Linked DNA regions of Homo sapiens. Changing the gene in region 4 together with the main gene of any one other region gives a genetic interaction. Each region holds a gene or a part of one and is shown on either strand. Other genes may lie near its edges.

Evidence for each region.
Region 1: changes in EZH2 (region 4) and ARL5A together harm fitness more than expected from each alone (negative genetic interaction), as found in Homo sapiens cells (one large-scale study listed by BioGRID).
Region 2: changes in EZH2 (region 4) and VPS51 together harm fitness more than expected from each alone (negative genetic interaction), as found in Homo sapiens cells (one large-scale study listed by BioGRID).
Region 3: changes in EZH2 (region 4) and ARF1 together harm fitness more than expected from each alone (negative genetic interaction), as found in Homo sapiens cells (one large-scale study listed by BioGRID).
Region 5: changes in EZH2 (region 4) and IGF1R together harm fitness less than expected from each alone (positive genetic interaction), as found in Homo sapiens cells (one large-scale study listed by BioGRID).
Region 6: changes in EZH2 (region 4) and GBF1 together harm fitness more than expected from each alone (negative genetic interaction), as found in Homo sapiens cells (one study listed by BioGRID).
Region 7: changes in EZH2 (region 4) and RAB1A together harm fitness more than expected from each alone (negative genetic interaction), as found in Homo sapiens cells (one large-scale study listed by BioGRID).

Annotation. Positions count from the first base shown.
Region 1 is NC_000002.12:151,801,360-151,804,421, forward strand, and holds part of ARL5A (ADP-ribosylation factor-like protein 5A), read right to left. Parts: intron 1,966-3,062; coding exon 1,917-1,965; 3' UTR 1-1,916. UniProt on the Homo sapiens protein: Lacks ADP-ribosylation enhancing activity.
Region 2 is NC_000011.10:65,106,214-65,109,287, reverse strand, and holds part of VPS51 (vacuolar protein sorting-associated protein 51 homolog), read right to left. Parts: intron 1,708-3,074; coding exon 1,561-1,707; intron 1,486-1,560; coding exon 1,266-1,485; exon of another isoform or gene 1,264-1,265; intron 1,092-1,263; coding exon 374-1,091; intron 9-373; coding exon 1-8. UniProt on the Homo sapiens protein: Acts as a component of the GARP complex that is involved in retrograde transport from early and late endosomes to the trans-Golgi network (TGN).
Region 3 is NC_000001.11:228,092,708-228,096,207, reverse strand, and holds part of ARF1 (ADP-ribosylation factor 1), read right to left. Parts: intron 1-3,500. UniProt on the Homo sapiens protein: Small GTPase involved in protein trafficking between different compartments. Modulates vesicle budding and uncoating within the Golgi complex. In its GTP-bound form, triggers the recruitment of coatomer proteins to the Golgi membrane.
Region 4 is NC_000007.14:148,874,292-148,877,791, forward strand, and holds part of EZH2 (histone-lysine N-methyltransferase EZH2), read right to left. Parts: intron 1-3,500. UniProt on the Homo sapiens protein: Polycomb group (PcG) protein. Catalytic subunit of the PRC2/EED-EZH2 complex, which methylates 'Lys-9' (H3K9me) and 'Lys-27' (H3K27me) of histone H3, leading to transcriptional repression of the affected target gene.
Region 5 is NC_000015.10:98,711,039-98,714,538, reverse strand, and holds part of IGF1R (insulin-like growth factor 1 receptor isoform 1 precursor), read right to left. Parts: intron 1-3,500. UniProt on the Homo sapiens protein: Receptor tyrosine kinase which mediates actions of insulin-like growth factor 1 (IGF1). Binds IGF1 with high affinity and IGF2 and insulin (INS) with a lower affinity. The activated IGF1R is involved in cell growth and survival control.
Region 6 is NC_000010.11:102,371,032-102,374,531, reverse strand, and holds part of GBF1 (Golgi-specific brefeldin A-resistance guanine nucleotide exchange factor 1), read right to left. Parts: intron 1-3,500. UniProt on the Homo sapiens protein: Guanine-nucleotide exchange factor (GEF) for members of the Arf family of small GTPases involved in trafficking in the early secretory pathway; its GEF activity initiates the coating of nascent vesicles via the localized generation of activated ARFs through replacement of GDP with GTP.
Region 7 is NC_000002.12:65,089,231-65,092,106, forward strand, and holds part of RAB1A (ras-related protein Rab-1A), read right to left. Parts: intron 1,849-2,876; coding exon 1,753-1,848; intron 1-1,752. UniProt on the Homo sapiens protein: The small GTPases Rab are key regulators of intracellular membrane trafficking, from the formation of transport vesicles to their fusion with membranes.

The DNA.
Region 1 (3,062 bases), on a different chromosome or scaffold from region 4:
TCAAATTAAAACATAAAAAGGACAAAAGGTGTGGATTTTCTGGGCTACATCACATAATATTTGTCTGGCGAAACCATAATACAGATTTGGGTAAAGGAGATTTTTAATAGATAACAAGTAATTCTTTATAGGGATTTGAGAAAGTACGAGAACATATGGGAAAAGCTTAGTAATTTAAGATTTACTTTTGTAAAACCATGTGGACAAATATTAAATGTTATGCTTGCATTTTGAACATTATAAATATAAAACATAAAACATCCAATGTTAAATACTGATATCCCATGCCTGACCTGGATTTAGATATTGAGTATTTCCCATTTTAAAGAAAGAAACTTTCAAAGTTTTGTCAATACTTAAACTATATACTATTATTCCTCACCAAAATCTTCATGAAATTTAAAAGGCTGATATTGAAGGTAGTTTTTTTTTCTCAAATATGCTAAAACATGTGAGTTTGGATTAACCTTCAGATTTTCAAGGCATGAAAGATACATAAATAGAGTACCCAAGAATATGTTTTAACACATTTAGGATAAGTTTGTTTACAGTTGTGACAGGAATACCTTTGACTTTCAGACACTGAAAAAATATACCCTAAGCAAACATAAAAGGTGTTTTGGGTCAAGTTACTTCTTAGTACAAATAATACGTTGTATCAATCAATTTTTAAGCCAAATTCTTAAAATCATTCAAAAAACACTTGCATTTTATAATTGTCAATGCATTTATGTAATAGAAGATACAACAAAATTTAGAAATAAAAAATCTCACACTATATTCCAAGTACCAAAATAAGAAGAAATTTGCAAATTAAGAAATTATCAATGTTGCTCAGAAACATGCCTTACTTTTACTCTGAAATTCACTTTAACTGCTTGACATATAATTTAATACTTAAAAATAATATAGCTAAGTTGTTTAATAGTATTTATAGAATGCTACTTTTCTGGGTAGACATGTTTCACAAAACAGTTTTCAATTAATGCTGAGCATTCATTTGATAATTGTAATCATAATTTGATTCACTGATTAATGGATTAATAATTTATTCAGTAATTTAGATGCCATAAGAACCACTGAAAGGAATAATCTGATAGTTGCTCATTGTACAATCCTGCCTATTAGTAATACTAAGCCAAGAATCTGCTAGCTTTCCCACTCTGTTGAATTACATGTTTCCATGTGTGTGATTTTGGTCAACAACAAAAAATCGATACACAATGTCATGCTTTTTCCTTTTCCTTTTTTTTTTTTTTAAACAAGCAGCTCAGCGATTTGGGAGGTTGGTTAGTACAATACAGAGAACACAGAGAGAAAGTATAAAATGGCACTGAACACTAATGCCAATACTTATCTCATTGTGGTTATAACGAAGGATATTATTATTTGTGTTATTTTTGTCTGGAACATAAATCAATGCCATTAACTTGAACTTGAGGTATATACACAATACACACACAACCTTAAGCAAAATACTTTTCATAAGTAACATTACATTTTAAAATATTGGAAACATTCGAATATCTGTGCTGATTTGTATTCTGACTTAATGGAACAAGAAGAAAATAACATTCAACTAGGGAGGGTTAAACTGATAATAAAGCTCTTAAAATTCAAAATGTCTTCCTCTCCCTTTGTACTTACCATAGGCTACACAATGTCCTGAGAGGATTCATTATGAGAAAAATGTCAATCACAGCTTCAATAACTTACTTTGGAAAAAACTAATGAGAAAGCAAACTGGAAGGTGAGACTTCATCTTTGTTTTCAAATAAGTGGTCTTAATTTTTCTTCTTATAGAAAAAGTTTAAATCAGTTTATTATAAATATATCTAAACCATTAATTTTTGCAGCTTTCAGGTAAAGTCCAGCACTTCATTTATACAAAATCTATGAGAAGAGGTCAGTAGAGATCATCTAATCTTAAGTCGTGACATCATCCATTCAAGTCCTTGGCACAATCTATAAAGAAAACAAAATCATTTGATTAAATTCTGAACTAAGAAGCTATGAGCAGCAAACTATGAACAGCAAACTAAAAGAGAGCATTTTTCATTTAGCTAAATAACAAAGATTTAAAAATCAATAATATTCAGTGCTTGGGCTGCTGCAGTGAAGCCATATTCTCATACACAATACATCTGTGCTTTTTTTGTCTTTCCTCTTTTTTAGACAGGGTCTCACTCTGTCACCCAGGCTGGAGTGCAATGGCACAATCAATGGCAGCCGTGACCTCCTGGGCTCAAGCGATCTCCCCACCTCAGCTTCCCCAGCAGCAGGGACTACAGGCGTGTGCCACCACACCCAGCTAATACATCTGTGCTCTTTTGGTTCAGTTATATCTCTAGCACCCAGAACGCTGTCTGACACTTTAAAAAAGCTTTATAATTATGCAATGAGTGCCCACAGAAAGCAACATATGTCAAAAATATATCTGGCAATACGTATCAAAAATATTTAAAATATCAATACTCTGCATCCTTTTTTCTACTTCTAGAAATGTATCCCAAAAAAGAAAATCAGACATAAACATAGACTTACATACAAAACTGTTCATTAAAGTACTTTTAATAGGAAAATAATTTTTGTCTAAAAATACAGAAAAAAATAAATTACAAGACATTTGTATGATGAAATATTTAAAATTTTCCTTTAAAAAATGATTTCATAATTCTCATCACCAGGAAATGGAGGAAATAAAACCATTTTATAATAGGATAAAATGCTCATGATATAAATGAAAAATGGCAGGATATTCAACAAAATATATATTGTAGTTATTAAAACAAAGTATACACATGTTACATAAATATTATAAAATGTAAGTATGTAAAACTTTTGAAGGCAATAAAATTTCTTATCAGTAACATCAGTTATCACTGAACAACTGGTAATTGAACATAACCCAAAATATAGAAAACGATGTTCACTGTGGGAAAAGAAACTAAAAGTTGAGCAAGAGAGAAATGGTTGTACACATTAAGTTGCAATAAAATGAAGAACTGTTATAAGTATTAACTATTATCTATGACAAGCTTTTGCAGACATAAAAAACTATG
Region 2 (3,074 bases), on a different chromosome or scaffold from region 4:
AACTCACCCTGCAAGAGAAGGTGCCCAGGTCCACAGCAGGTCCCCTCTTCCAGGTAAGGCTGTTAATGACCCTCTGCTGGGGCTCTAAGTGCCCCAGCCCCCTCTGCAAGGGACAGCATCATCCTACATTCTAAGTACCCCGGAGCAGCTTCCCTGAGTGGGGGCAGAGAAAGCCAACACTGGGGACCCCACCATGCCCTGCTTCTCAGCCCAGCTGCAGATGCCCTGAGCCTTCCCCACCCCCCAGACCGTGCATAAGAACCTGAAACCACACCCAGAGTGCCTGGTTTCCCCAGTTTCCCAAGCACTGGCATAAAAGGTTTTGGAGGGTCAACCAGCAGGTTGAACAAGGAACACCCAAGAGGAGGCGTACCCGGAAGTAGGGCTTGTTGGAGAAGGACACCTCTTTGGCGGTGAAAAGGTGCACTGCTGCCAGAGAGGCCTTAATGTGGCTCAGGATGGAGCTGGCCACATTGGCCAGCAACTCGGCCAGGCCAGGGCCCTCCTTCCCAGCCACGCGAGGTGCTGCCAGCGCCTGGCGGACGTCTGTCAGGCAGCCCAGGAAGGCCGCCCGGAGACCCTGCAGGTGGTGGCCCAGGCGCTCGCGGGCCACTCGTTCCACGATCTCCGTGGCAGCGTCTGCGAGCCCGGCAGCGGCCAGCAGGGCCCCGGGAGCCCGCAAGCGCCGGTGGAAGCGGTCCAGCGCCCGCACCAGCAGTGAGTTGTCACCACCACCCTGCTCCTGCGCCAGCCGCCGCTCCACCAGCGCAAAATAGCGGCTGCCCAGCTGCCGGGCGAAGGCCGCCAGCTTCTCGGCACCTGCTGGGCCCTGGGCCGCAAACAGCTCCTGGTAGGCCGCCGCCACCTGGCAGAGGCCGCCCACGAAGCCACTGCCTCCATGGTCGGTGAACTCTAACACGTCGGGAGCCGGAGGTGAGGGCCCCAGCTCGGCCTCCAGGTTTCTCAGCTCCTTCTCCAGCCGGCCGCGGGCGTGCGCCAGGAACTCCTCGCACAGCTCCTCCGCAGGCTCGCCCAGGGCCAGCAGCAGCTCCACGCACTCTGCCTGCTCCGGGGCGCCTGAGCCGCCCTCCCTGCACGAGGGAGAGGTAGTGAAGGGCAGGGCCGGGGCTGCCGGTGGATGGGGCAGGAGCAGGAAAGCAAAGCACACACAGGGCAGGGGGACAGCTCCAGGAGGGCCCAGGAGCCGGGCACAGATGGGGCTCGGGGCTGGCGGGAGCGCTGGGGTCAGGGCAGAGGGGCCACACCTAAAGCGCTGCCGCAGCTGCTGGGCCAGGCGGGCCGTGATGACCTGGCAGTCGTCCTGGATGGCGCGGAACGAGGGCAGGTGTTGGTACTGCTGCAGCACGGCCTGCGCGCGGCCCTGGTAGCGCACCGCCTGCCCATAGGCGCCCAGTTCCACGCACTTGGTGAGGCGCGAGGGCAGCTCAAAGAGGAACTGCAGCTTCCGCAGCAGCGCGTGGACCCCTGGGGGACGGAGGGTGACGTTAGCCCCAGAGCCCCAGGAAAGGCCCACTGCAGGCCCTGCCCGGCAGCGCCCACCTGCCAGCTTGGTGATGCGCTCGTGGCGGTCCTGCAGCGTGGCGCTGATGCGAGCGCTGAAGTCGGTGATCACTGCCATGTTGGTGGCCAGCCGGTCCATCTCATCCTCCATCTTCCGGAAATCGTTCTTCATCTTCCGGATGGTGTCTAGGAGGGCAGGGGCGGGGAAAAGGGGAGAGCAGGTGACTGCAGGGCGGGCGCAACCTCAGCTCCTTCTCACCCACCCCTTCACAGACGCCCCAGCTTGCTCCAGGGGCGCATGGATGATTCCAGAGAAAGGACTGCGAGGGCGTGGGTCACAGCGCACATGGGGGCGGGGGAGGGGGTTTATGTTCCCAAAGCAGGCGTTACTCACATACTCCCCGTAACCCCCTAACCCTGGTGCCCAGGAGAGCCGGCCCTCAGAATTAGTCCAGATCCGAAGCAGGCCGCAGGTGCTTAGCCAGCTGCCACCACTGTGCCTCAACTGCTCCATCAGACCACAAGCAGCCAAGGCAGGGACCGCTGGCTCCCAAGCGCATCTGCGTGTCCAGCGCACTGCCTGGATGAGGCAATACATTCTTGTTGACCCTCATCTCCTTTCCAGACCTCCCAAAGCCTTTCACATGCTTTCCGGAACATGGGCTGTCTTCTCTGAAGGGCCCTTTCCCTTTGGTCCTGATAGAATCCTGCCTAGGGAGGCTGTTTTTCCTTTCACACACCAGGTGCCTGGGAGCCTGGTCCCTTCATGCTTCTAAATCATGCCTAGATCTCCTCTCTTCAAAACCCCGGCTTCTAGGAAGACCATGCCATCAAGCCACAACCCTCCTCTTTGCTGTCTCTACTGTCCTCTGACACTCCTCTCAGTTCCCCATCACTGCCTCTTCTCCTCCTCCTGTCACCTCCTTGTGCACATCCACATGGATGAGCCTTCCAATGTTCCTGACTGTTCACTGACGGCCTCAATTCAATTCCACCTATTCTTTTTTTTTTTTTTTGAGACTGAGTCTCGCTCTGTCGCCCAGACTGGAGTGCAGTGGCACGACCTCTGCTCACTGCAAACTCCAATTCCCAGGTTCACACCATTCTCCTGCCTCAGCCTCCCAAGTAGCTGGGACTACAGGTGCCTGCCACCACACCCAGCTAATTTTTTGTATTTTTAGTAGAGATGGAGTTTCACCATGTTAGCCAGGATGGTCTTGATCTCCTGACCTCATGATCCGCCCACCTTGGCCTCCCAAAGTGCTGGGATTACAGGCATGAGCCACCGCACCCGACGAGGTCTGATGGTTTTATAAGGGGCTCTCCCTGCTTCGCTTAACACTTCTCCTTCCTGCTGCCTTGTGAAGAAGATGCCTTGCTTCTCTTTCACCTTCTGCCATGATTGTAAGTTTCCTGAGGCCTCCCCAGCCATGCTGTGAACTGTGAGTCAATTAAACCTCTTTCCTTTATAAGTTACCTAGTCTCGGGCAGTTCTTTACAGCAGTATGAACCTGGATTAATATACCTAGTAATCAATCCATTACCAAGTCATG
Region 3 (3,500 bases), on a different chromosome or scaffold from region 4:
TTCCACACACAGGTGGCTTTTGGCTGAATCACAGCCATGACTGTCCGCTGGTGACTCTCTCATCCAGTCACCCCAGCACGCTACGGCAAGGAAATGCCTCTTCTCCATTTCTCAACATCAGCAAGAGCCCACACATGCCTGTGTGTTTCAGTGGGTGTGAACTGGCCGCCCGTGTCTGATTTAACACTGCCATCATCCCAGATGAGCCACAGAACCCCTTCAAGCTGGATCAGTGTCCTTTGGACACTTTGCTCTTGGTTTTGAACATGTCACCTATTCTGAAATTTAAATGAGTTCTGAAATTTATAAGGACCTTCACTGTAGTGTTCCCTTTTTGGGGACGGCCAGGTTTTCTAAGCCCAGAGGAAGACCACCACCCATGGAGCACAGAAGAGACTGAATACCTGCCCTCTCAGTCCACTCCTGCAACCACTACCAATGAAGACACCAAAATGACACACACGCCTTGAAGGGCAGAGAGAAAAGGGAGGAAGACCTTGGATGTGATGATTGACCAGGCAGAGAAAACTGGACCGCCTGGGACCCAAGGGATGAAGCTGGGACTGCCTAGGGCAGCAATGTCCAATCTTGGCTACCCTGGGCCACAATGGAAGAAGAATTGTCTTGGACCACACACAAAATATACTAACACAACAGCTGGTGAACCAAACCAAAACAAAAACCCCCAAAATCTCAATGTTTTATTAGAAATTTGTGTTGGGTCGGGTTCAAAGCCATCCTGGGCCACATGCGGCCTAAGGGTTGGACAAGCTTGGTCTAGGGGAGCAGCTGCAGCAGGGCTTAGGCCTGCGCTGAGCCATGACAACACACTTGAGCCATGAAATTCCAGAATAATTCCTGAGAGTTCTATATGCCCCAGCAGATCCACACACAAGCAACTGGAGCTCCGCCCACCCCCACCCCCCACCAAGAGACAGGCCTGTCTGCCTTTGAAAGGCCACCAACATAAGAGACCCAAATATAAAAGGAATCTGCAAGGAGGCAACCAAGACAGGAGACTGAAGACAGAATACTATTTTAACAAAGGACAAGGAGAGAAACCTGATAGATACACAAATAGCTGAAAAGGAAAATTCAAAATGAAGGTGCTCAGAAGGCAGAACAAAAACAAACAGAATGAAAAAGGAAGATGAGGAGTAACTTAAGATATCAACCAACAGAAACCCTAAAAAGAAAGAACGTACGAAATTACGGGGTGAAATTTTTCCCTGTTCCAGAGTGGGGACCCAGGAATCTGGGCTTCGGCCTCAAAGGGCTGAAGCGCAAAGCCAAGGACCTAGATGAGACCCAATAAAGGTGCAAGGTGGACTCCAGAATGCACAGGGGCAAATGACACCTCTGATGCCCCAGAGAATGGAAGACTCTGAAACACTGCTTTCGAAACCCTTTAATTCTATACCCAGCCAAAGTATCCAACAAGTGTTAGGGGAGAATGAAAATAACTCCCAAACTGCAGGGCCTCAGATCTCTCACATGCTCCCTCCCTAAGAAGCTCCCCCAGGGAACCAGGGAGAGGATGCGAGCCCACAGCAACGTGGAGAGAGAGCAGCAGCCTAGCCAACCCCACATGGAGAGAGAGCAGCAGCCTAGCCAACCCCCTCAGACTGGAGCAGGAAGTGGACACCTGCAAGAATGGGGCACGCCACCTACGTATTCTTATTATGGGGTTGGGCAACTCTAGGCAATGCGGAAAAACTAATAATGACAGGTTCGCATGAAAAACCCAAGCATGAAATGGAACGAAAAGAGGGCCTTTTATGAGTTACTCCAGGAAAACATATGGTGGAGGATACTCAGGGAGTCCTGATGTTGTTATTACTAGGGGGTTGGAAAGCTGAGGCGAGGGTGTGTGGTGTCAAAGGCTTGTTAACTGTACAAGTTAACAAGTCTAGGAGGAATAAACCTAGGACACCAAGTCAGCAGGGACTCAGGAATAAGGGTCGCCTGCCAGTTGGGCAGAGGCAGCACCAGACTGCCACGACCACTGAAGCACAGCACTTGGGAGAATTGACAGTAACACCCAGCCACTCAGGGGAAGGGGTGTCACACCGTCACCAACCCCCTCGACCCCAGCACTGTCCGTGATCCACACATGCCTGCTGCCTCCTCATGCCCGGGGCAGTGCCGCCAACCATGCCCAGGAGATCATGCAGCCTGCAGGCAGTGGGGTTTGTGATGCCAGTAATCCCAGGCCCTCCCCATTGGTGGCTTTTTTTTTTTTTTTTTTTTTTGAGACAGAGTCTCACTCTGTCATCCAGGCTGGAGTGCAGTGGCTTGATCTCAGCTCACTGCAACCTCTCAGGTGCGATCTCGGCTCACTGCAACCTCTGCCTCCCAGGTTCGAGATTCTCTTGCCTCAGCTTCCCGAGTAGCTGGGACTACAGGCGCGTGCCACCACGCTGAGCTAATTTTTATTTTTATTTTTAGTAGAGACGGGGTTTCACCATGTTGGTCAGGGCTGGCCTCGAACCCCTGACCTCAGATGATCAGCCCACCTCGGCCTCCCAAAGTGCTGGGATTACAGGAGTGAGCCACCACGCCCGGATTTTTTTTTTTTTTTTTAACAGACCAAAGCGTTAAGAGTCCCCAAAGGAGGGAAGCCACCCTGCAATGGAATGGCAGAACCAGGATGGGTGAACCTGAAGTCTCAGGTGTCAAGACATCGGCACACAGACAGCTTGGTCTCTCCTACCGACAAGCACATCTGTGGCCCTGCTGCACATATGGGCAGAGGGTGGCTGGCACGTCCTGCCTCGGCATGTTCCAGCATCCCCACAGGACCCTATACCTGGCAGCCCCTACATCATTTACTGCTTCTGTGACAGATGGAGACCCAATAGAGTTTCCTAAGAGGGAGAAAGAGTCCACAGCAACCCCCACCCTCAATTCCAGGGCCTCTTGGTACGGGTCCTAACTTGTGTCATGCCCAGGCCAGGTGCTGTCACCCTTTCTTCCACCAGAGTCCCTGCACACAAGCCAAAACCCGCTTTTCAGGTTCATCGGAATTATCCTGTGGTAGGAGCAAACCTGACTTTCTCAGAGCCTTCCTGCTTGTACACAAGGGGACCCCTCACACTTTGAGAAGGGGCTGCCCAGCAGGAGGATGCCAGGAGCCACCAGTGGCTACTTCTCTTTCCTGACCACGCTGTGGGCTCCAACTCTGAGGAAAAAAAGTCTTTTAGGAAGAATGTTTCTTTCTTCAGTGAGGACCACAGACCAATGGTAAAGGTGGCCTTCAGGCATTACACCAAAGAACGGGACAGTCAACTCTGGCAGCTACATTCCCCGACACCTCACTGTGCCTGAACAGGGGCAGGGAGAAAATGTAGCTCTGTGAGTTCACATCCGTTTTGTGTCCATGAATGGATCCAACCAAACTGGTCCAGATGCACATGGGGTCCAGATGCCTCTGTGGCCTGTACCCAGACCACCAGCCAGTACTGTCCTCGGTCCCTTGCAGATCTCAGGGATACTTTGGC
Region 4 (3,500 bases):
GTGGGAGGATTGTTTCAGCCCAGGAGGTGGAGGTTGCAGTAAGCCAAGATTGTGCCACTGAAATCCAGGCTGGGTGACAGAGCAAAACCCCGTCTCAAATAAAAAAGCAAAGAAAAAAAAAACACCTATCAGAGATAATACTAATTCAGAGAGTTTGGGCTGTTCTACAGACTACCTGGAATGCTACCTTCAGGAATTTCTTAACTTGAATCCACAGCCATGAGAAGACTGAGGTGGACAATGCCACGATCACCTACAGTGGTGGTAAACAACACCCAATGGAGGTCCAACAGCTTGCTTTATATATTTTTTTCTTTGTTAAACAGGAAAAGGAAAAGTTATGTATTACTTGAATATTGAAGAAAAACTAAAAATTTATTGTGGGGGCAATTCAGGTGTTGAGCAAAAGAACTGCTACTTTACAAAAATAAAATAGTGTATAGAAACCAAGTATATATAATCTGAAAAGCCATCCATTTCTATAATAAAAAAATTTACGGGAGGCTTAGGCAGGAGAACAGCGTGAACCCAGGAGGCAGAGCTTGCAGTGAGCCGAGATCGCGCCACCGCACTCCAGCCTGGGGGACAGAGCAAGACTCCGTCTCAAAAAAAAAAAAAAAAAATTTTACTTGATTGTCAAAGTAGGGAAACTAAGTTTGGCAATCATCATTTCTACATACCCCATTCTAAGATCAAGGTCACTTTTTACTTTTAATATTCTCATTTATCCTTTGAAGAAAAAATTTAAGGCTTAACTCACTAATAAATGAAAAGGTTTGAATTATGCAAAATGAAGAGAATTACTAAATACAATAATTTTCAAAACTAGTTTAATTAAAAAAAATTATCATCCATACACCTAACAGCATATGAATAATATCCTTTTAGTTTACAAGTTTCTGCAAATGCATAACATTTTGTTACACTAATTAAATGACTCGTGAATTAAGGACAATTTGTTTCACATAATTTATCTGATTATGCTTCCCATATTAAAGTTTTAACTTGATCTTTATAGTATTAAAAATACACAAAATCAAACAAAAATGAACAATAAAATATTTGCAACACAATCTGACAGATAATGTGACTATGTACCCAGAACATATAAAGACCTCTTGCCACTCAACCAGACAAACAATCCAATTTTTTAAAGGGACAAAAGGCTTGAACCAAAAAAAGTACACAAATGGCCAATAAGCATATGAAAAGATGTTCCAACATCATTGATCATCTGAGAAACACAAACCCACAATGAGATACTTAATACTCATTTGATGGCCAAAATTTAAAAGACTGGCAACACGAAGTGTCAATGAAAATGTGAAGAAACTGTAACTCCTGCACAGTTACAACTGTAACTTTCAATTTAAAATGGTACAACTATTTTGGAAAAGAGTTTAACGGTTTCTTACAAAGTAAAATCAATATTTACCACTAAAACATGTCCAGGAAAGACATACAAATGGTGATAGCAGCTTTATCAACAGCTGACAACAGTCCTATGTGTCCATCCATGGGTAAATGAATTTAAAAACTGTAGCACATGCCTACAATGGAATATTAATTCAGAGAGTTTACTACAAGTCAGGTGCCGCGGCTCATGCCTGTAATCCCAACACTTTGGGAGGCCAAGGCAGAATCATTTGAGCCCAGGAGTTGGAAACCATCCTGGGCGACACAGGAAAACCCCATCTCTACAAAAAAATATTAATAATAAATGTTAGCTGGGCATGGTGGTACATGCCTGTGGTCCTAGCTACTTGGGAGGCTGAGGTGAGAGGTTCGATTGAGCCCAGGAGGTCAAGGTTGCAGTGAGCTGAGATCTCGCCTAAAACTACAAAAATTAGCTGGGTGTGGTGGCAGACGCCTGTAATCCCAGCTACTCGGGAGACTGAGGCAGGAGAATTGCTTGAACCCAGGAGGCGGAGGTTGCAGTGAGCCGAGATCATGCCATTGCACTCCAGCCTGGGTGACAGAGCAAGACTCCATCTTGGAGGGAAAAAAAAAAAAGTTGAGAGAATGACTGTAAAAGAGGATGAAAGGACTCTGAGATGATGGCAACCATTATAGATCTTGATCCAGGCAGCGGTGCAGGTGCATACATTTGTCAAAACTCCTCAAATCATACCCTTCAAATGTGTGCTTTTTATTGTATGTAAATTATACTTCAATACAGTTGTTGTTTTAACTAAAAATTAATATAACTTGACAACACCTATTAAAACTAGAAATGTTCATAATCTTGAAAGAGCCAACTCTATAGAAAATTGTCACACAAATGTTCAAAGATACATAAGGATGTTCACTTCTTTTCAGGAGAGAAAACAATGTCAATCACAACAGATTGGTTTGCTGCGTAATGCACATTCATAAACTGGAATACTATGCACCCCCCTTACACCAAAGAGGTACAGCTGGATGGCTTAGAGCAAGGGGCAGCAAACTTTCTCTGTAAAGGGCCACATGGTAAGTATTTTAGGCTTGGCAGGCGGTATCTAGTCTCCCTTATATGTTCTTCAGGGAAGTGGGGTGGTATTGTTTTACAACTCTTTTAAAAGTGTTAACGTTTCCAGCTCACAGGCCTTACCAAAAATGATCCCTGGCTGGGAGATCAGGACTTTGAAGCTAACGTACCCAAATTAAAATCCTTCCTCTACCACTAACTAGTTGTTACTTAATCTCTCCATCTCTCGATATTATAGTATCTATATAAAATAATGACTTAGAAGAGTACCAAGCATATAGTGAGCCCTAAAGGAATATCAATTATTTTTTAATAAAACAGATCTTTGTATTGACCTTAAAAAAAAGCCATGTTAGAACCAAATAACTTGGTCCCATTTTTATAAAATGTATGTAAAAATACATATTCATATATGAATATATTTGAAAATTTGGGGAAGAATATACACCAAACCGTTAAAGGTAGCGAATGAGATAACAGGGATCAATACGCTTTCATTTTATAAATGTCTACATTGTTTCAGTAGTTTAAAGCGAACACATTTAATCAACAGACATTTCTAAATTGAAATAGATAAAACGTGTGGTACCATTTTTGTAACTTACCAGTCCTAAGCACGTAATTTTAACTTGAGAAGTGTTTGGTTCCATTAATGAGAAAGTACATCAACTCTAAAATAATATTGGCACAATAACTGAAAATCATTTATCAAACACTTTTTGCCAGGTACAGTTCTAAGGATTTCACATGTATCAATTCCTTTAATCCTCACAACCACCTTATCAGATGTTATCATTATCCTCACCAATTTACAGATAGGGATGCTAAGACATCAAGAGGATAACACCCCAGACACAAATTGGTAGCTCAGGGACTGGAACCCAAGAAACTGTCTCCAAAGACCACATCCTTAGAACTCTACTCTCCTCCCCTCTCAAATGCATACTATTACCACTCTGGCTGAGAAAGAAATCCTCAAAGTTAACCTTTAGTCTGTCTAGGGTTTCACACTGTACCTTCCATCAAACTACAA
Region 5 (3,500 bases), on a different chromosome or scaffold from region 4:
AAAGTGCTGGGACTATAGGCACGTGCCTCCACAACCAGCTAATTATTTAAATTTTTTTATATGAACAAGGTCTCACCATGTTGCCCAGGCCAGTCTTGAGCTCCTGGACTCAAGCGATCCTCCTGCCTCAGCCTCCCCAAATGCTAGGATTACAGGTGTTAGCCACTGCGCCCAGCCTTCAATTTACACATTCTTAAACAGGTCCTCCACTTTGATCTAGCAGGTCAGCCACACCAACCTATAGAGGAAAACGAGGGAAGGAGAGCGCCTCTACTCCGCAAGACAACACTGCCCTTGTGAGCAGTGGCTGACAAACAAGGATATAAGAACGTGGCGGTGGAAAAATGTAGACTTTTTTTTTTTTACTACAACCTGCCTTCATTTTAAGTCAGTGAGATGCCATCAGTGAGATGGCAGTAAAATGTTTTCCTTTTGTCAATAAAAACAGCCATTTACTGCCTTCTCGAAGGCTCCAATCTGCTATTTTCCTGGTTTCTCATTTTGAGGGCAATAGGAAATGCAACAAACTCCAGGACTGCTGCTCCCAGTCAATGCCCTTTTAATTGAAATAAGGCTGCCCCACCAGCTAAGCCAGCTTCCAACACAGCCCGGCCCTGCCTTCCTGGATTTCCTGGCAAAGCCCAGGCCTTCTCACACGCACTCAGGGTGATCTGAGCAGACCACAGGCTGTTCATCCCAATGGGTTAAAAAGTACTTGGAGACTTAGTTGCAGTAAGGTCTTAGGTTTTGTTGGGGTTTTTTTTGTGGGAAAGTGAAGGCATCTGCACCTGAAATGAAATACCAGAAAGCCTCCACAGCAAGCAAACAACAGGCACTTAGGTAAATTCAGCAGGAAGTAAGAAAACCACAGGTACTCAGGAGGATTCACCTCCGTCCCTCCCAGGGCAGAACTGGCCTTCAGCAAAACTGCCTTACAAAGTCATGAATGGCTTCACGTGCCAAGCTTCAACCTTTCAGATGATTTCCATACTTCTCCATCATCTTTGGCCTGGAATCATCCCCACAATGGCAGGAAAGAAAAGAGCTACCCGCCATAGTGGTCCTCTCTGCCAACTAAGAGTTGCAGATGATTCTGGTCAGTACTCCTCAGTAGCAATGACAGCAACAATGACACAGTAAACATCTGCATTTCATAATCCTGGTACAACTGGCTCACCGAAGACTGCCAGGATACGCTACTCTCTGCTCAAGGGGAAAATGTATCTTCCGAACAATAAATCCTTCACTAAGCAGATGCAGTGCTTGCCCTTGGGGTGACAGCATACAGTGGAGGATACACCCAGAATTTACAGTGGGGCAAAAAGTGTCCCATCAGGTGCTGGGAGACAGGCCTCCCGAAATCTGCAGAGCCTTTACATCCTTGAGAGGAAAAGGCAAGGCTAGAGTTCGGCCAGGTGAGCCGTGCCGGCTGGTCAGCACGGGAGAGCACCACTGGGGCCAAGGACACAGCAGGCAGGCGGGAGGGAGTGGCACATGGAGTGTGGCATGTTGTCACGGGGTAGCTGTTGACCACTCAGGAGCTTCACACTGTACCACATGCCTATCCTATAGGGACTTGCTACAGGATTTCAGGTAGGGGAGCTCATCAGTCCAAAGTGCACACTAGATGGCCGGGCGCAGTGGCTCATGCCTGTAATCCCAGCACATTGGGAGGCCAAGACCGGTGGATCGCCTGAGGTCGGGAGTTCGAGACCAGCCTGGTTAACATGGTGAAACCCCGTCTCTACTAAAAATACAAAAATTAGCTGGGTGTGGTGGTGCGGGCCTGTAATCCCAGCTACTCAGGAGGCTGAGGCAGTAGAATCACTTGAACCTGGGAGCCCGGAGGTTGCAATGAGCCAAGATCGCACCACTGCACTCCAGCCTGGGTGACAGAGTAAGACTCTTTCTCCAAAAAAAAAAAAAGTGCATACTGAAAAGCTCCCCAGTGCTCGGTGGAGCCACAGGACACAATAGCAGGAGAGAGGCTATGTCACTGCTGTAAGGGGGAGGAGCAGAGGAACACAGCTGAAGCAGCATTTCCATTCCATTCGGGAGGGAAAGGGCCTGGTATCCAACTGGAGAAGGAAGTGTCCAAAGGACACCCACATTCCTGACATAAGAACCAGGGGAACAAAAGTGTGGCCCACTTAAGAGGGAATAGAAAAGAAAAAAAATAGGCAAAAGTGAGGAAACAGGGAAGACCATCAGAGGCTGTAGTGAAATGCTCGTGGTGGTCTGATATGAATGACAAGTCCTGGGTTCAAAAGGGTTCTGGGATGGATATGAATGACAGGTCCTGGACTCAAAAGGGTTCTGGGCTGGAGATACTTGGAAGTTTAGGTGGAGACAGGAGGCAATGCAGTTACCAGTGGATGAGATGAGAACAAGGAAAGTGAAAAGAGAGCCCAGGACAGAACTCCAGCCATGCTATGATCTGAATGTTTATGTCCCCTCAAAATTCTTATGTTGAAACCTAATCCCCAGTATGATGGCTCTGGGAGGTGATTAGGCCATGAGGGTGGAGCCCTCACAAATGGGATTAGTGCCCTTATAAAAAAGACGCCAGAAAAAAAATCCCTCGCCCCTTCCAACATGTGAAGACAGTGAAAAGGTGCTTCTGTGAACCAGAGTGTGGGCCCTCCCCAGACAGTTAATCTGGTAAGCACCTTGAACTTGGACTTCCAGCCTCCAGAACTGTGAGCAGTATTTCTGTTGTGTGTAAGCCACTCAGGGTATGGGATTTTGTTACAGCAGCCTGAATGGACTATGTCAGGAGACCACCGTTAAAAGCCAGACTGAGGGAAGGGAGACAGAGAAGCGGCACCTGTGGGGGTAGGAAGAGACTCATAAGAGGGTGGCGTTGGAAGACAAGGAAGAAGAATCAACCACACCACATGTCAGGGGGTGCCACACAACTATGTTCTTACTGAAAGGAAACCACTGTACACAGTTCTTTAAGGGTCAATCGCTCTTTAGGAATGACTCAAAAATGTATAAAATCCACTCCTAAATCCAAAAAGAACCGAGAAATACAGAAGTGTGCAGAGAACCCACAGAGGGATCACGTCCATAGAGGGAGTAGAGTCTACTACGCTGCCAGACACTGCAGAGTCACGGCACAGAAGGAGTTTAAAGGACAGTGCCAAGTGAAAACCGCGCAACAGCACGACAAAATCGAGTAGGCTCAACGATTTCACACACACCCTTGACGTGTTTCTCCAGATGTTCTCCGTAGTTCTACAGCCAGCCAACAGAAGATTACCTGAATGGGATTCTTCTGTGCTTAATGTTTTCGAATGGCCATCTTAATGCTTATGTTGAACTCAAGGTAGCCATTCTGCCTGGACTCAATGCCCTTCATGGAGCTCCCCAAATGATTCCTAAGGGTTCTGGCTGGAGAGGTACATGCGGGGCTATGAGCGCTGCAGTGACGACTCAGCCAAAAAGATGATGAGGGGAAGAACTCCTGGTGTTAAAAGAAATGCTCTAAAGCAGCT
Region 6 (3,500 bases), on a different chromosome or scaffold from region 4:
CTCACAGCAGCCTCAAACTCCTGGGCGCAAGTGATCCTCCTGTCTCAGCCTCCAGAGTAGCTGGAACTACAGGCATGCACCACCATGCCCAGCTCATGTTGCCCTTTTATAACCACACCCACCTCCTCCTTCCTGCCCCCATCCCTAATCCTTAGCAATCTGTCTTCAAATTCTTTTTTTTTTTGAGATGGAGTCTTACTCTGTTGCCCAGGCTAGAGTGCAGGCAGGATCTCAGCTCACTGCAACCTCTGCTTCCCATGTTCAAGTGATTCTCCTGCCTCAGCCTCCCAAGTAGATGGGATTACAGGTGCGAGCCACCACGCCTGGCTAATTTTTGTATTTTTAGTAGAGATGGGGTTTCACCATGTTGGCCAGGCTGGTCTCGAACTCCTGACCTCAAGTGATTCACCAGCCTCAGTTTCCCAAAGTGCTGGGATTACAGGTGTGAGCCACTGCGCCCAGCCTGTCTTCAAATTCTAAAGTTCTGTCATTTCAAAAATGTTATATAAGTGGAATTATATATTACATAACCTTTTTAGATTGGCTTTTCTTTCACTCAGCATAGTTCCCTGGAGATGTCTGTTGCTTTAAATTGCTGAATAGTATTCCATGGTGTGTATGTACCACAGTTTATTCACCTATTGAAAGTCATCTGGGCCGATTCCAGTTTTTGGCTATTACAACTAAGGCTTCTATAAACATTCATGTACAGGTTTTTATGAGAAAGTAAGCTTTCACTTTTCTGGGATAAATGTCCAAGGGTGCAATTGCTGGGTTGTATGGTAATTATATGTTTCATTTTATAAGAAACTGCCAGCAGAGTAGCTGTACCATTTTACATTCCCACCCAGCAATATATGAATGACCCAGTTTCTCCACGTCCTTTCAGCATTTGGTATTGTCACTACTTTTTATTTCAGCCATTCTGAAAAGTGGGTAGTGATGTCTCATTGTGTTTTTATTTTTTGGAGTCTTGCTCTGTCACCCAGGCAGGAGTGCAGTGGCACGATCTCAGCTCACTGCAACCTCCTGCGTTCAAGCGATCCTCCCACCTCAATCTCCTCAGTAGGTGAGACTACAGGTGTGTGTGACCACGCCCAGCTAATTTTTGTATTTATTGGTAGAGACATGGTTTCACCATGTTGGCCAGGCTGGGCTCAAACTCCTGACCTCAGGTGATCCACCCACCTCAGCCTCCCAAAGTGCTGGGCTTACAGGTGTGAGCCTCATTGTGGTTTTAGTTTGCAGTACTCTGATGGTTAATGATGCTATCTTCATTTCATGTGCCTATCTGCCATCTGTATGTGTTCTTTGGTGAAACATCTGTTCCTATGTTTTGTCCATTTTCTATTAATAATTGGATTGTTTTATCACTGTTGTGTTTTGAGAGTTTTTATATTACAGATACCTTTCTTCAAATATGTGATTTGCAAATATTTCCTCCTCGTCTACAGCTTGTCTTTTCATCCTCTTCACATAGGCTCTCATAGAACAAAACTTTTAAAAATATTAATGTAGCCCAACTTATCAATTTTTCCTTTTCTAGATTGTGCTTTTAATGTCAAGTCTAAAAATTATTACTTTTTTTGAAAGAGAGTCTCCCCCGGATCTGTTCCATCCAGACAGTGTTGAGGCAAGAGACAGATCCACAGGACTGCCAAACATGCTAAAAATTCTTTGCTTAGCTCTAGATCCTGAAGATTTTCTCCTGTTTCTAAAGTTTTTATAGCTTTACATTTAAATCTATGATCCATTGGAGTTAATTTTCCTGTAAGGTATGAGGTTTAGGTCAAGGTTCATTTGGTTTTTCCTCCTATGGATTTTAATCACTCCACCACTTATTGAAAAGGCTATTCCTCCTCCACTGAATTGTTCTTACATCTTGGTCAAAAAATCCACTGAACATATTTGTGTTGAGCTTATTTCTGGTCTCTCTATTCTTTTCCATTGATCTACGTGTCTGTCCCTCCATCGACACCACATAATCTTGACTACTATAGCTATACAGTAAGTCTTTTTTTTGAGACAGAGTTTCGCTGTCCAGGCTGGAGTGCAATGGTGTGATCTTGGCTTACTACAACCTCTGCCTCCCAGGTTCAAGTGATTCTCCTGCCTCAGCCTCCTGAGTAGCTGGGATTACAGGCATGCCCCACCATGCCTGGCTAATTCTGTATTTTTAGTAGAGACGAGGTTTCTCCATGTTGGTCAGGCTGGTCTCGAACTCCCAACCTCAGGTGATTGCCTGCCTTGGCCTCACAAAGTGTTGGGATTACAGACGTGAGCCACTGTGTCCAGCCGAGAGTAAGTCTTTTTTTTTTTTTGAGATGGAGTCTCGCTGTGTTGCCCAGGCTGGAGTGCAGTGGCGCAATCTTGGCTCACTGCAACCTCCGCCTCCCAGGTTCAAGCGATTCTCCTGCCTCAGCCTCCCGAGTAGCAATCAGGCGCTCACCATCACGCCCAGCTAATTTTTCTATTTTTAGTAGAGACGGGGTTTCACCACGTTAGTCAGGCTGGTCTTGATCTCCTGACCTCGTGATCCACCCGCCTCAGCCCCCCAAAGTGGACAGTAAGTCTTAATACCAGAGTGATTCTTTTTTTTTTTTTTTGAGACAGAATCTCACTCTGTCACCCAGCTGGAGTGCAGTGGCGCGATCTCAGCTCACTGCAACCTCCGCCTTGAGTTCAAGCGATTCTCCTGCCTCAGCCTCCCAAGTAGCTAGGATTACAGGTGTGTGCCACCACACCCTGCTAATTTTTGTGTTTTTAGTAGAGATGGGGTTTCACCATGTTGGCCAGGCTGGCCTTGAACTCCTGACCTCAAGTGATCTGCCCGCTGTGGCCTCCCGCAGTGCTGAGATTACAGGCATGAACCACAGCAACCGGCCCAGAGAGAGTGATTCTTTCCACTTTATTCTTTCTAGCTATTCTAGAGCTTGTGCCTTTCCATCTAAATTTTAGAATAAGCTTACCTATGTCTACAAGAACCTTTCTGGGATTTTTATAGGAGTTATGTTGAATTTACAGATCAATTTGGGGAGAAGTGACAAAGTTACTATGTTGAGCCTTCCAATCCATGAACATAGTATGCCTCTTCATTTATTTACATCTTCTTCAATTTATTTTGTAGTTTTGTAGTTTTCATCATACAAATCTTATACATGTTTTGTCAGCTATATATTAAGTATTTCACTTTATTTGGAACCCTTGTAAATGGTATTGTATTTTAAATTTCAGTTTCCATATTGTTCATTGTTAGCATGTAGAGATATAATTACTTTTTGTGTATTGATCTCACATCCTGTGACCTTGTTGAATCCACTTATTAGTTCTATGCTTGTTGTTTTTTGTAGTTAAGCAAAGAGATCTCAAGAGGGTCATAAGCATGACAGGAAACCAGGTATAGGGCTGAGACTATTATAAGGCAGTAGCAGGCCAGTCCTACAAAGCAGATTCATAGGAGGCTGAGGTGCCAAACACAAGCTCCATGCCTGAGGCCATTC
Region 7 (2,876 bases), on a different chromosome or scaffold from region 4:
GAGACAGGGTCTTGCTCTGTCACCTAGGCCGGAGTGCAGTGGCACAATCACAGCTCACTGCACCCTCGACCTCCCAAGCTCAAGCCATCCTCCCGCCTCCGCCTCCGGGATAGCTGGGACTACAGGCACATGCCACCACACCTGTCTTTTTTTTTTTGGATTTTTTGTATAGATGGAGTTTCACTATGTTGCCCAGGCTGGTCTCGAACTCCTGAGCTCAATCGGCCCACCTTGGCCTCAAAAAGTGCTGAGTTTACAGGTGTTAGCCATTGCAGCTGGCCGTAAACAGATATATTAAAATGACTATAAATATCTAAACAATGACAAACTAGAATTTACAGGCTTAACGATGAAAATACCTTATTTGAAAGGGAAGTATAGCTTAATATTAAACTGCAACGCAGGCAAACCCAACTGCTTTGGAATATGCAATTTAAATGTACTACAAAACCTGGTTTTGAAATTTGATTAATTTTTTTTTTTTTTTTTTGAGACAAAGTCTTGTTCTGTCATCCAGGCTGGAGTGCAATGGCGCGATCTCGGCTCACTGCAACCTCTGCCCGCTGGGTTCAAGCGATTCTCCTGTCTCAGCCTCCCAAGTGGCTAGGATTACAGGCACGGGCCCCCACGCCTGGCTAATTTTTGTATTTTTACTAGAGATGGGATTTTGCCATGTTGGCGAGGCTAGTCTCTAACTCCTGACCTCAGGTGATCCGCCCGCCTCGGCCTCCCAAAGTTCTGGGATTACAGGCGTGAGCCACTGCGCCTGGCCTGAAATTTGGTAAAATTTTGGTTTATGAATAAGATGACCTACTGTTACTACTAGAGATGTCAAAAGATGTTATTAAATATACTCATTTTCTTTTCCACAGTCATATTTAGAGGACGAAAGTTTTCATTTAAAAATATTTCACGGTAATAGTAGAGATTTTTTAAACTAGCATCATTTTTTTCTCCTGCAGATATCACCCACCCAGCACTTCTAATGGCACTGAATCTAAATGCTTACATGTAAGTTATCTCCTAATTAGCTATGATTTCTCATTAGAGGTGAGATTTAACATTTGCCAAAAGAAAAATAAATTCCAATTTTGAACGTTTATCTTTTGTCCTTTTCTTTGATAGAAAGGACACTGAAATCTAAGTTTCTGATTTAAAAAAATAGTAACAAAAAAAGTTATGGCCCCTGGATCACATGCTTCACACTGTCCCACATTGTTCCCTCCATCGCTCTGCCCTCTCTCACAGCTAATCTTCAGATACTCATTCTCATACTAAGATCCTCCTACAGCTTATCCTATTCAAATTCTTTATTTCTGAACCACATCCTCCATAGGCAGAGACCCCCGAATCCCACTTTTGGCAATTCTGATGGACAAGTTCTAATTACCAGGCCATATTCCTGTTAATACTTAACACCAAGAACACAGTATAAGCCAAGCAACTCACGATTCCCTACAAACTCTTGCCTATATGTTAGAGTCTTGGCTATTTGATCAAAGTTATTTAGTTGACAATAAATACAACCAGAATCCCTTGAAAGCAAACGTAAAACTAATTACTAATCTTTTATTTATTACAGGAAAACAAATGTCTTTTAAGTGATTCACATTTATATTTGAGAGTGGACAAAGTTTTCTGCCATAAAATTAATACTGATGGCTTATATATGAAGTAGTAAATGAATCTGACATTAATCAAATAATGGCTTCCTACTTGGTCACTGTAACACAATCTCCTCTTGGAACTTACCTGATCTGTCACATCATACACAACTATGATGCCATGGGCTCCTCTGTAATAACTGGAGGTGATTGTTCGAAATCTTTCCTGGCCTGCTGTGTCCCACTATTACAAAACAATCAAGAAATCCAAACAATTCCATTAAAATAAAGTTGGGGAAAAGTGTAGGAGGGAGGGGAAATAGTTTAGTTTTCATAACTGTGGAGATTATCAGGATGTGATATAGAAACATTAGTCCTCAACTCATACCACTAAATTGCACGGTAATAAGCACCTGAAAGTCCAGAAAAGAAGTAGTACCTACAATTGAGCTTACGATAATAATACTAAAATTACAAGCTGTTGAGAGCAGGAACTATGTCATACTTTTCACATTCCCTACCGCCTTTAACACTGTGTTTAGGAATGCCACTGGCCGAAAGCCCTTGAACACAGAACTCTTCCATGTAAGACAAACTCACTTGCTAGCACATTCTACCATGATTAAAAGCACTGGAGGGACCTAATTCAAATAACTACCAGTCAAGACAGAACTTTAATCATCCCAAGCAGGTGTCTTTTTTTTCCCCTCTCAAGCAGCGTCTCATTCTGTCATCCAGGCTGAGTACAGTGGCATGATCATGGCTCGCTGCAGCCTCAACCTCCCACCTCAAGCAATCCTTCCACCTGAGCCTCCTGAGTAGCTGGGACTACAGGCACATGCCACCACACCCGGCTAATTTTTTCTTTTTTGTAGAGACAGAGTCTCGCTACATTGCCCAGGCTGGTCTCAAATTCCTGGACTCAAGCAATTATCCTAACTCATTCTCCCAAAGTGCTGGCATTACTGGCATGAGCCACCATGCCTGGCTAGGTGTTGTCTTCATCCTAGAGAAAAAAATGTAAGGAAGATGACTCCAAATACTTTCATAAAACGTATTTTAAGAACAATTTACTGCACTTCAACCATTTAGGCTCAAACTCCCAAAACAAATGCTAACATTATTGCATTATAGTTCTGGGTTTTAAAAAACTGTTGGGACTGGGTACGGTGGCTCACGCCTGTAATCCCAGCACTTTGTGGGGCCGAGACGGGCGGATTACGAGCTCAGGAGTTCGAGACCAGCCTGACCAACATGGTGAAACCCTGTCTC